Homo sapiens: one gene and its partners. The protein of the gene in region 1 interacts with the protein of each later gene in a pairwise test. Each region holds a gene or a part of one and is shown in the gene's direction. Other genes may lie near its edges. The genes, in order: ZDHHC22, TRIM59 and FCRL2.

The links.
Region 2: the proteins of ZDHHC22 (region 1) and TRIM59 interact in binary tests that used the Homo sapiens proteins (3 or more experiments, as listed by UniProt).
Region 3: the proteins of ZDHHC22 (region 1) and FCRL2 interact in binary tests that used the Homo sapiens proteins (3 or more experiments, as listed by UniProt).

The regions. Positions count from the first base shown.
Region 1 is NC_000014.9:77,140,003-77,143,830, reverse strand, and holds the start of ZDHHC22 (palmitoyltransferase ZDHHC22), read left to right. Parts: upstream 1-2,039; 5' UTR 2,040-2,228; intron 2,229-3,086; exon of another isoform or gene 3,087-3,288; intron 3,289-3,828. UniProt on the Homo sapiens protein: Palmitoyltransferase that could catalyze the addition of palmitate onto various protein substrates and be involved in a variety of cellular processes. Catalyzes the palmitoylation of KCNMA1, regulating localization of KCNMA1 to the plasma membrane.
Region 2 is NC_000003.12:160,436,187-160,439,786, reverse strand, and holds part of TRIM59 (tripartite motif-containing protein 59), read left to right. Parts: intron 1-600; 5' UTR 601-603; coding exon 604-1,815; 3' UTR 1,816-3,600. UniProt on the Homo sapiens protein: E3 ubiquitin ligase involved in different processes such as development and immune response. Serves as a negative regulator for innate immune signaling pathways by suppressing RLR-induced activation of IRF3/7 and NF-kappa-B via interaction with adapter ECSIT.
Region 3 is NC_000001.11:157,775,000-157,778,827, reverse strand, and holds the start of FCRL2 (Fc receptor-like protein 2 isoform 1 precursor), read left to right. Parts: upstream 1-1,695; 5' UTR 1,696-1,754; coding exon 1,755-1,785; intron 1,786-3,032; coding exon 3,033-3,053; intron 3,054-3,828. UniProt on the Homo sapiens protein: May have an regulatory role in normal and neoplastic B cell development.

The DNA.
Region 1 (3,828 bases):
CTCATAGGGCCAGAATCCAAGTGAAGTTTTCATATTGATTTTGCCTCCCTATTGATTTTGTCAGGGATAAGCATAAGTTTTAGAAAAACAAAATGACATTTGCCGTGCTTCCCTTCACTCCATTCCTTAAGGGGAGCTGAGGAACCACTAGCTTTAGATCTGAAGCTGTAATGTCCTTTTCTGTTGATAAACGATATTTCTAAATAAATAATCGTCCTTGTCCATTTGTGTTTCCACGACCAGATCTCCTTTTCCTGACTGAATACTCCCTTCCCCCACTAACATCTTCCCACGTTCGCTTAGCTTCTTTCTCTCTTTCCCTTTCCTCATACACACAGATTCAGACACACACCTTCCCACCTCACACCCATATGCAAAATAAAATTAGAAATACCACCCGACTCACAAGGTATTTGGGGAATGGAGATCTTCAGTCAGTATACCCAAACCCAAGCACCCCAGCCAGCCTCCCTCCCTGCCAAGCCCATGTGAGAGGCAGACAGAGCTTGTGAAAAGGGGCCCAGACGGCCACGATTATGAGACAAAGCTGCTCTGAAGGGAAAAGGGCCATGTGTGCCTCCCCATGTCTGTCCTGTGGCCACTGGAACTCACAAGGCTACCAGCTGCTCACGGCCACCATGTGGCATATACTGTTCTTTCACTTACATGTCAGATCCTTTTAGAATGTGAAAAGGTTTCCTGGCCTCTTTTTTATTTTGATGTATGCTGATAAATTACAGAGGAAACAGTGTGTGGTTATTCAAGAATAGAGGCTGAGCTGATCAGCATATGGCCCTCATTTCAAGGGATTGCTCTTGTTTTAATCAGCCAGTTGAGAAAGCAATAAATGTTTATTTATTAAGTATGCCATCACCGAGAGGAGAGGAACAGGGCAGGTAGGTGAGCTGCGACACCCAGGAAATTGAGGATGGTGATGGCACCAATATTCCTGCAGTGTTTGATGTTTTTAAGGCTCTGCTCCCCCCACCCCCCACTGTTTGATACACATTGGTGTCACTACCCTCTTGGCGCATCACAGTACCCACCTTAGAATAGCGGAGCCCTGGAAGGGGAAGGAAATAGAAATAAGAAGGTGGGGGTGAGGCTCAAAGAAGAAGCTCCAAGTTCAAGCTCTGTGTCTGGATAAACTCCCATTGTCTTTCCTTCTCTCAAATCAGAGCTGCCCGTGGGTCCCAGGGTGATGCTGGGCTGTGTAGAGGCTGAGTGCAGGAGCATTAATGCTAGAACCAGGTTCAAGTCCAGGCTCTGTCACTTAATGGCTGTATGACCTTAGACATGAGACTTAGCTTCTCTGAGCTTCAACCTCCTCATCTCCAGAATGGGGCTCAGCCAGCTTCACAGATCAGGCTGAGAGGATTAAGGAAGCATCTTATGCTAAAGGCTTAGCACAATGCCTGCTACCTAGTAGGGGCCCGATAAGTAGTGTCTAATTATGATCTAATCAAGCAGTGCTTGCCCTGGGCAGGCCCTGTTTAAGGGTTTTACATAGATTGTCATTTAACCCTCATATCTCTATTTCACAGATGAGGAAACTGGAATCTAAGATCACACTGGAATTTACAGACGAAGAAACTGGAATCTGAGATCTCACAGTAGTGAATGGTGAATATTCAAACCCAGGTAGACAGGCTCCAGAGTCCCAACTCCCAACCCTCTGTACACAGCCCTTCCGAGGAGATGACGCTGATCTTCATGGGTGTTGCCCTGGCAAGCTGACCTCTCAAGCCCCCAGGGTTCCTTCAGTCCGAGTGGAGAGCAGGGAAGGTCGTGGGACCTAGCCGAGAGGGAAGGGCAGGATGATGGCTGGAGAATCCACATCAGGGCTGAATCCCAATCTCCCAGCTGGAACGGGCGCTGAAACCAGGCAGGGCGCCCCAGCCCGCTCAAGGGGAATCGAGAGGGGAGGAGGGGGCAAGTCCACGATGCTGAGACTGGCGGCCAGAGCACCGCCCCCAGGAGCGGAGGGAGGGGTGGCGGGGCTGGGGGGTGCCCAGCTGCCATCCCCGCCGCTTCCTGGCCCTTACTCGCTGGCGCCCAAGTGGGAAGCCAGCAGCTGCCCGCTCCCTCCTCCCCACATCCCCGCTACTTGCCCAGTTCCCGAAGCGAAGCGCAGGCTGCGAGCCAGCCGGGCCGAGTCCACAACTTTGCAGCCTCGGGCAGGGCGAGAGCCGGCGTCCGGGGCTCCTCTTGTCGGCGACCAGAGCTCGGTGAGTTGATTTCCTCACCCCTCTGCGACGGCGGCAGTGCGGCGGCGGCGGCGCGGGGGGCGGCTTCCCGTGCGTCCGGGAGGCAGTGGCCGAGAAGCCCGCGGCTGCCGGCGCTGCCGGTCTTTCCAAGGCTCCGGCTGTGCCGCCCTCTGCCGCGGGCGAGGCGGGCGCCAGGGCTGAACGGACAGCTCCCTACACCCCGGGGCCCCACGGGCGGTCTCTGCTGTCCCTTCTCCCGCGCAGGGCCAGGGCTGAGGCTGCCTGCCGAGCGCCCCTCACTCCCCTAGCCCCTGTCCTTCGCCGCCTTCCCAGCGCTGCGGCGCATCTGGCTGCTCCCGCGCCCCCCTGGCGACCGGCGCCGGGAAGGCACTTGCTTCGCCGGAGCCCCAGGCCGAGGGCTCTCTGGGGTGGGCAGCACCGCCGCAGCCCCCGGCGGCGCAGGACTGGGGGCGTGCCCAGCCCCCGGCGACCACCCTCAGGCGTGCACTGCGCTGCGCCCCAGCGGTAGGGAGAGGCCCACGCTCTCCGCGGAGGCTGCGGGTTCCCGGGGGGCGCTGGGACCTGCAAAGGGGATTCCAAGGTGACCAGTCGACCCGTGCGGACGGGACAGCCTGGACGGAGGCCCCGTGGCATCCACCCATCCTAGGTGCAACCGCCTTCCCAGAACTTTTCTCGCGCCTCCGGCTGGCCGATTCCTTAGCCCCTGGAAAAGTTCTCTCGGGCGCACGGAATCCTATTTCTCGGTGGCTTCCGAAGCTGGCCAGGAACCCCGGCTGTGAGGCGTGGGGTGGGATGGGGACGTGGTGAGGGCTGAGCACGGCGGCGGGGTCGATCCCAGGAAAGGCTGGCCAAGCATCCACTCGTGCGCCCAGGGCGGGCTTGTCGGCATGGAAAGGATTTCGGCGCCATGAGGGTTGTTTGGGTTTCTCTCAGCAGGAGGGCGGGAGGCGGGCGCGAAGGGGGGATTTTAATTTCGCCTCAAATGAAAACGCTCTTCGCAAAGAAATAGCCCGGGCAGCCAGCGTTGGAGAGATGTGCTGGCCAGGACCCGCTGACACAGGTATTCTGGTTGCGCCCCCACCTCACCCGGTGCCCGAGAGCGAGTGTGAGTGTATCGATTGTTTCAATTGATTTTTTTAAAGCTAGATAGCAGAGGCTGCGTGTCTGTACACGCAGATATATACATACACAAATACAGATACTCAAGCGCACACAGATTACACGTACAGAGTCACAGACAAGGACACACACACACACATCGTGGTCCCTCACGCACACATACCTCCAAAGAGCCTTGGGTAACCTGGTGAGGTCCCTGAGTGCTGCCCAAGATGTGTGTGTGGGTGGGGACGCAGGGACGGAGAAAGGGGAGTGTGAAGCAGGATTTCCAGCAGGTCAAGTGCCGCTGATTCTCCTGCCCCCGACCCCAAATCCTTCCCTTTCTCCTCCTAGGGAGGTCTGAACCAGAAATCCCAAACCTGGGCTTGTTTCCACATCCACAGAGGGGAGGAGTCCTATCCCCCGGTGCCCCCCACCCTCACAACTCCTAAAGACTGCAAACGAGTCCCTCCCTCCTGTGCCAGACTCTGCCGCGCCAAGG
Region 2 (3,600 bases), on another chromosome or scaffold:
AGACTGGGTAATTTATAAGGAAAAAGAGGTTTAATGGACTCACAGTTCCACATGGCTGGGGAGACCTCACAATCATGGCAGAAGGTGAAAGGCACGTCTCACATGGCGGCAGACAAGAAAAGAGAATGAGTGAAGCAAAAGGGGTTTCCTCTTACAAAACCATCAGATCTCGTGATACTACAAGAACAGTATGGGGGAACTGCCCCCATGACTAAAGTTATCTACCGCTGAGTCCCTCCCACAACATGTGGGAATTATGGGAGCTACAATTCAAGATGAGATTTGGGTGGAGACACAGCCAAACCATATCACATAGCAACAAATTTAAATAACTTAAATTTGAAGCATTTTACTACAAATTAATGATAATTGCTTTGTTTGGGATGATTTTGGTCCCTAAGGAATAAACTCTTAATTGTGATCAGTTATTCACTATATATACTAGGAAATGAATTACTCAGAAAACTTCATTTTAAAAATACCTTGTTCTCTTTTAAATGACAAGCAGTATGGTAACAATTTGGAGGTTAATGCCTAGAATGTTAAATAATATGTACAGGTGTCTCTATGTAAACTTAAAATACATTTTTCTCTTGACAGGAAATGCACAATTTTGAGGAAGAGTTAACTTGTCCCATATGTTATAGTATTTTTGAAGATCCTCGTGTACTGCCATGCTCTCATACATTTTGTAGAAATTGTTTGGAAAACATTCTTCAGGCATCTGGTAACTTTTATATATGGAGACCTTTACGAATTCCACTCAAGTGCCCTAATTGCAGAAGTATTACTGAAATTGCTCCAACTGGCATTGAATCTTTACCTGTTAATTTTGCACTAAGGGCTATTATTGAAAAGTACCAGCAAGAAGACCATCCAGATATTGTCACCTGCCCTGAACATTACAGGCAACCATTAAATGTTTACTGTCTATTAGATAAAAAATTAGTTTGTGGTCATTGCCTTACCATAGGTCAACATCATGGTCATCCTATAGATGACCTTCAAAGTGCCTATTTGAAAGAAAAGGACACTCCTCAAAAACTGCTTGAACAGTTGACTGACACACACTGGACAGATCTTACCCATCTTATTGAAAAGCTGAAAGAACAAAAATCTCATTCTGAGAAAATGATCCAAGGCGATAAGGAAGCTGTTCTCCAGTATTTTAAGGAGCTTAATGATACATTAGAACAGAAAAAAAAAAGTTTCCTAACGGCTCTCTGTGATGTTGGCAATCTAATTAATCAAGAATATACTCCACAAATTGAAAGAATGAAGGAAATACGAGAGCAGCAGCTTGAATTAATGGCACTGACAATATCTTTACAAGAAGAGTCTCCACTTAAATTTCTTGAAAAAGTTGATGATGTACGCCAGCATGTACAGATCTTGAAACAAAGACCACTTCCTGAGGTTCAACCCGTTGAAATTTATCCTCGAGTAAGCAAAATATTGAAAGAAGAATGGAGCAGAACAGAAATTGGACAAATTAAGAACGTTCTCATTCCCAAAATGAAAATTTCTCCAAAAAGGATGTCATGTTCCTGGCCTGGTAAGGATGAAAAGGAAGTTGAATTTTTAAAAATTTTAAACATTGTTGTAGTTACATTAATTTCAGTAATACTGATGTCGATACTCTTTTTCAACCAACACATCATAACCTTTTTAAGTGAAATCACTTTAATATGGTTTTCTGAAGCCTCTCTATCTGTTTACCAAAGTTTATCTAACAGTCTGCATAAGGTAAAGAATATACTGTGTCACATTTTCTATTTGTTGAAGGAATTTGTGTGGAAAATAGTTTCCCATTGAAAATGTCAACCTGAATTGTTTAAATGGGCTTATTCTGTACATTGCTAAACAAAAAATGGGGTAGCATGGATAAAGAGCAAACTAAGCTTTATTAGTGCTGCAACTAATATAAACAAATGTTTATATTTGTTGCTTCTTTTGGTTAGCAATGATATGTCAAAGTTATATCTGAAATAGTCAAATCTTTGGGAAACAGAATCTAGTAACAATTTGAAAAGTAATACACTATCCCATTTTTATTGGCTTTATGATGGTTGACATAATGTTGCTGTGACATTTAAACATTCTTGTACCAATATTGTCTTTTACCATTATTATATACTGCAGTTAATTGGCTTTACAGTTCTTTATATATATAGCAAAATCCTGAAAGAACATATACCTTTATTTTGATGTGGCTTGAAGCTTTTGAATGGGTGAATAAGGATGATAGAAAGGTTTCAAAATCAAGCAACAAAGTCTTAAAGTGATAAGGCATGGCTTAAAGATCTTTTGATCAAACATACCTGTGTTTGAGATAGATTTAAGAGCCCTAAATGCTTATCACCATTCACTCCAAATAAAACTATTGCTTTTGGATAACTGTTAGAGTAAAGTGGCTTTTTAAAAGAAATTTTTGAGACTGGGTCTCACCTTGTTGCCCAGGCTGGAGTGTAGTTGTCTGGTCATGACTCACTGCAGTTTCGACCACCCAGGCTCAATCGATCCTCCCGCCTCTGCCTCTGGAGCAGCTGGGACAAGGCACACACCCCCATGCCTGGCTAATTAAAAAAATTGTTTTTTGTAGAAACGAGGTTTTGCCATATTGCCCAGGTTGGTCTCAAACTTCTGGGCTCAAGAGATCTGCCCACCTTGGCCTCCCAAAGTGCTGGGATTACAGACGTTAGCCACACTGTGCCTGGGGGCCAGCATTTTCTAATACTTGTCATATTCTATAGTTTGTGCAAATTTAAGATTGTTTTTTTTTCTGCTCGTCAGTCAAATCAGTTCTTGGATTAAAAACTCATTCTTATTAGAACAGAATCATGTTGGTAACTTGGTCTGCAACAGGTTTTGATGGCATCATGTGGACTTTATTCATCTTAACTCATTTAAATTTTCTACCACATTCCCTTAAGCTAATGCAAAAGTACCAACAACTTAATCTTTTTTTTTTTTTTTTTTTTTTTTTTTTGAGACGGAGTCTTGCTCTGTCGCCCAGGCTGGAGTGCAGTGGCGTGATCTCGGCTCATTGCAAGCCCCGCCTCCCGGGTTCACACCATTCTCCTGCCTCAGCCTCCCGAGTAGCTGGGACTACAGGCATCTGCTACCACGCCCAGCTAATTTTCTGTATTTTTAGTAGAGATGGGGTTTCACTGTGTTAGCCAGGATGGTCTCTATCTCCTGACCTCATGATCCACTCGCCTCAGCCTCCCAAAATGCTGGGATTATAGGCGTGAGCCGCCACGCCCGGCCCAACAACTTAATCTTTTATTAGCTTTGCTTAAGAGGGCCAATTAAATCAAAGCCCTTTAGTTCCCTTTAACAGGGACTGGAGTTATGATGCATGTGTTACGACTTTTGGCCCACTGTCCATGCAACTCTAAGTGCAGGTTGATTTGCTTTCCAGAAATCCCAAAGGGGCTGCTCTTGGATCACCGAAGAGCCTTACCTATATCAAATCAAAAAGACATTCTGGGTCAGATTAGACTATGCTCCTGGCCCTACAGATTGCACATAAACTATCATAAATACAGCTTTTTCAGGGAACTAGTTCTAAAACTCTTACCTGCTGAGAATAAGTCT
Region 3 (3,828 bases), on another chromosome or scaffold:
ACTACAGGCACCTGCCACCACGCCCGGCTAATTTTTTGTATTTTTAGTTGAGATGGGGTTTCACCGTGTTAGCCAGGATGGTCTTGATCTCCTGACCTCGTGATCCGCCCGCCTCAGCCTCCCAAAGTGCTGAGATTACAGGCGTGAGCCACCGCACCCAGCCCACTTTTTTCTTAATCATATATCCTAGACATCTTATCTTGCTATTAAATATTATTCCACAGAATTATTTTAATGGCTGTTTGGTTTTCCACAGCATTTGACACATAACTTATTTTTAACACACATCTCTCCTTGTGATATATTTTTAGTATTTTCTTTTTACATTATTATAAGCAAGGCTTTAATGACCATCACATATAAATATTAGCCTTTCTCAAAGTAAAACTATGATAATAGTGAGAATAAAATGTTAAGTATCCAATTGTTAAAAATTCAATGTTAAGTATTCAGGTAAATGTTAAGTACCTGAACAGGTAACATTGAGTCTATGAATATTTTCAGTCAGTCCCTCATTTATAAGCACCTGTGATTTTTTGGTTTAGAGTTTCATCCTGCATAAGGTTCACTGATGAGACAACATCTACTGGGACTACATCTAATCAAAGTGAGCATGATAATAGGTGTTCACATAACACGCGCTTTGCTTTGTGTGAGATAACTGTATTAGGATCAGCCTGGGGTACAAAAAGCAATGCAGATTAGAAATAGGCAATGTTGTGATTACAGATTAGAAAGATGGCAATGTTTTCAGCAATATAGTGCAAGTGTTTTGAAGTTTAGTAAAATCTCATTCTAGAAAGTCATCGAATGACTACGAAAAATTTTACTTAAGAAATATGAGCTATTGAAACAATGGCCTTATTATTTTATGAACCTTGAGAAGCAATATATCAAGATAATAGGGCACAATGTTTAAGAGCCAGACTGTGACACTGGGCTGCCTGGGTTTGAATCCCAGATCTGTTACTACTAGAAATTGATTAAGCTGATCTTGGTCATTTTACTGGCTGCTATCATCTGAATGTTTGTGTCCTGGCAAAATTCTTATGTTGATACTTAATCCTCAATGCAATAGTAATAAAAGGTACCCACCTTTTATTACATGACCTTTTAGGGGTCATGAGTGTGGAACTCTTATGAAAAGGATTAGTCTCCTTGTAAAAGAGGCTTGAGGGAGCTTGTTTGCTCCTTCCATCATGTGAAGACACATAGAGGACACCATCTATGAGAAACAGGCCCTCATCAGACACTGAATCTACTGGTGCCTTGATCTTAAACTTCCCAGCCTCTTGAACTATGAGTGATAAATTTATGTTGTTTATAAATTTCTCAGTCTAAGGTATTCTTTATAGCAGCCCCAATGGACTAAGACACTTACCTTTACTAGTGCCTCAATTTCCTTATTCATGTGAAAGGGGATAGTGCCAATTCAGAAACTTGCTGAAGGTAATAAATAACTCTGTAAGCATGAGGCACTTAGAACTGTGTCTGACTCATTGCAACCCATATGTAAATGCTAGGTATCATAATGAGGGTCAAGTTACAAAATTTCTCTGGCATTGAGAGGATCAGCTATAATTGTTTTAGCCCTTCCAGGACAAAGATAATGGTTAAACATAGTGGCACTATTCTACTTCCTTTTTTGCTAATTATACAAAACCTATTCTGAAAACCACATTTCATCGCCTGCTCAGAGTCTCCAGTTGGTGACCAAGAGTACATCTCTTTTCAAATAGCTGGATTAGGTCCTCATGCTGCTGTGGTCATTGCTGGTCATCTTTGGTGAGTTCAATAATTTGACTGAGAAGTGAGGTGGCAGCTGAATGAGGTCTACTGCTCCCAAAAGGTTGGAGGTTTTATTGGAGCCCAGGGACTGGTGGGGATGCTCAGGTCCTGCCTGCAGCTTGGGCTTCAAAGGCAGATGCAAAGAAGTAGGCTGAGGACAGTGAATTTGCAGCACATCCATTAAGCATTAAGCACAATGCTTAATGTTCAAGGTGGACCACTTTTCCATTTGCTGGTCATGAATTGCTATTTTGATATCTTAGATCTCATTGAGTAATATAATGTTCTCATAGTAAAATGTTCATAATATTAGCATTTAGCAATGCCCTTCTCCTCCATGAACACCGATTATTCAATTGTTATCTATAAGATTTGGGTTCAGCAGATGCATTGAGACCCTTTGCTAATATTCCTCTGTTTAATCGTGGACAATGAGGGAGATGACAGCTGCTGCTAGAAAATAAGATTCCTGGGTGAGTGCAGTGGCTCATACCTGTAATCCTAGCACTTTGGGAGTCCAAGGCTGGTGGATCACTTGAGGTCAGAGTTCGAGACCACCCCGGCCAACATGGTGAAACCTCATCTCTACTAAAAATACAAAAATTAGCCAGGCGTGGTGGTGGGCACCTGTAATTCCAGCTACTCGGGAAGCTGAGGCAGGAGAATTGCTTGAACCCGGGAGGTGGAGGTTGTGGTGAGCCAAGATCGCACCATTGTACTCCAGCCTGGGTGAGAGAGTAAATAAGATCCCTTTCTCTATGCTGTGTAGGCACTAAATAAATATTTGTTATTGGAATACAAAGGGCTCTAACGTGAAATATGGCCATAGGAAAGAGACTGATTTGTTGATTTCTTGGAACTCTCACAATGTATGTTTCCTGATGAGCCCTTTGTGATCGTGTTGTCATGTCTATCTACCACTTGAAAAGTCAGAGTGTGAGATAGAGTGGTGGGGATGGTGGAAGGAAAATGAAATCAAGGAGAGTCACTAAATATCCAACATGGGTATTCTCGACAATCCCTTTAGTCAAGCATTGGGTTTGCAACTTGCCTTTTGACTACAATGAATGACAGTTAGATGTGTGCTCGAGGGAGATTGAATTGTTAGTAATAAGAGATTAGGGAAATAGAAAAGAAAGGGAAAATGGAAAGAAGTTTTTGAGCAATTTACCAGAGTAATATAAATTTATAAATTATGAGGGCAAATGCTGTGTGCTAATCTCTGGCTTTTGATCTCCTCACAGATGCAGTCACTGAACAGGCAGGTGAGTCCTCCTTGTCTTTGTTGTTCTTGGTCTCTGGCATATCAGTCACCCCACTACCCCAGGATTCTATAGAGGTGGCTCTGGAAAGCCTGTGAAGATGTCCTAATATTACTGCCCTCTAGGCTGACATGTTCTGAGGTCACGCAGCCTGTTTCCAACACCACTTGCATGTCTGGGTGACCAGGTACCACCTAGCCTTCTCAAGACCCCACATGCTTGCCTCTTCCTTAAAAGCCTGGCTTTAAGAAGGGCAATAACATGCAGATTGAAGAAAAGAACAATTTGGAGAGAATTGTTTTCCTGCCCATAGGACTGTAATGCCTCTTTATTGTCTGGCTGAATGCTGAATGTTTTTACAGCTCTGAAAACAGCTATTTATAGAGGAATGTGTCAGAACTACAAACTTCTGCAGGGTCAGAATAAACATGTGTCCTCATTGCTTCTCTAGCTCTAGCTCAGGAATCAGCAAGCTTTTCCTGTAAAAGGCAAGAGAGTAAATAGGCTAAGCTTTTCAGGTGTGTGCCGTAACTACTCAATGCCATTGCTGTGGTAGCAGGAAAACAACCATAGACCATATGTAAACGAATGAGGATGGCTGTGTTCCAATAACATTTTATTTACCAAAACAGTGTTGGCCAGCTCACAGGCCATAATTTGCCAACCCGTGCTCTAGATTTAGTATTTAGTTTTGATTTTTTAAAAATGCATGTATTACTGTTCTAATCATAAAGAGTGAAATAAAGCTAATTTTATTTCACTCTTTCTGAGTTAAATC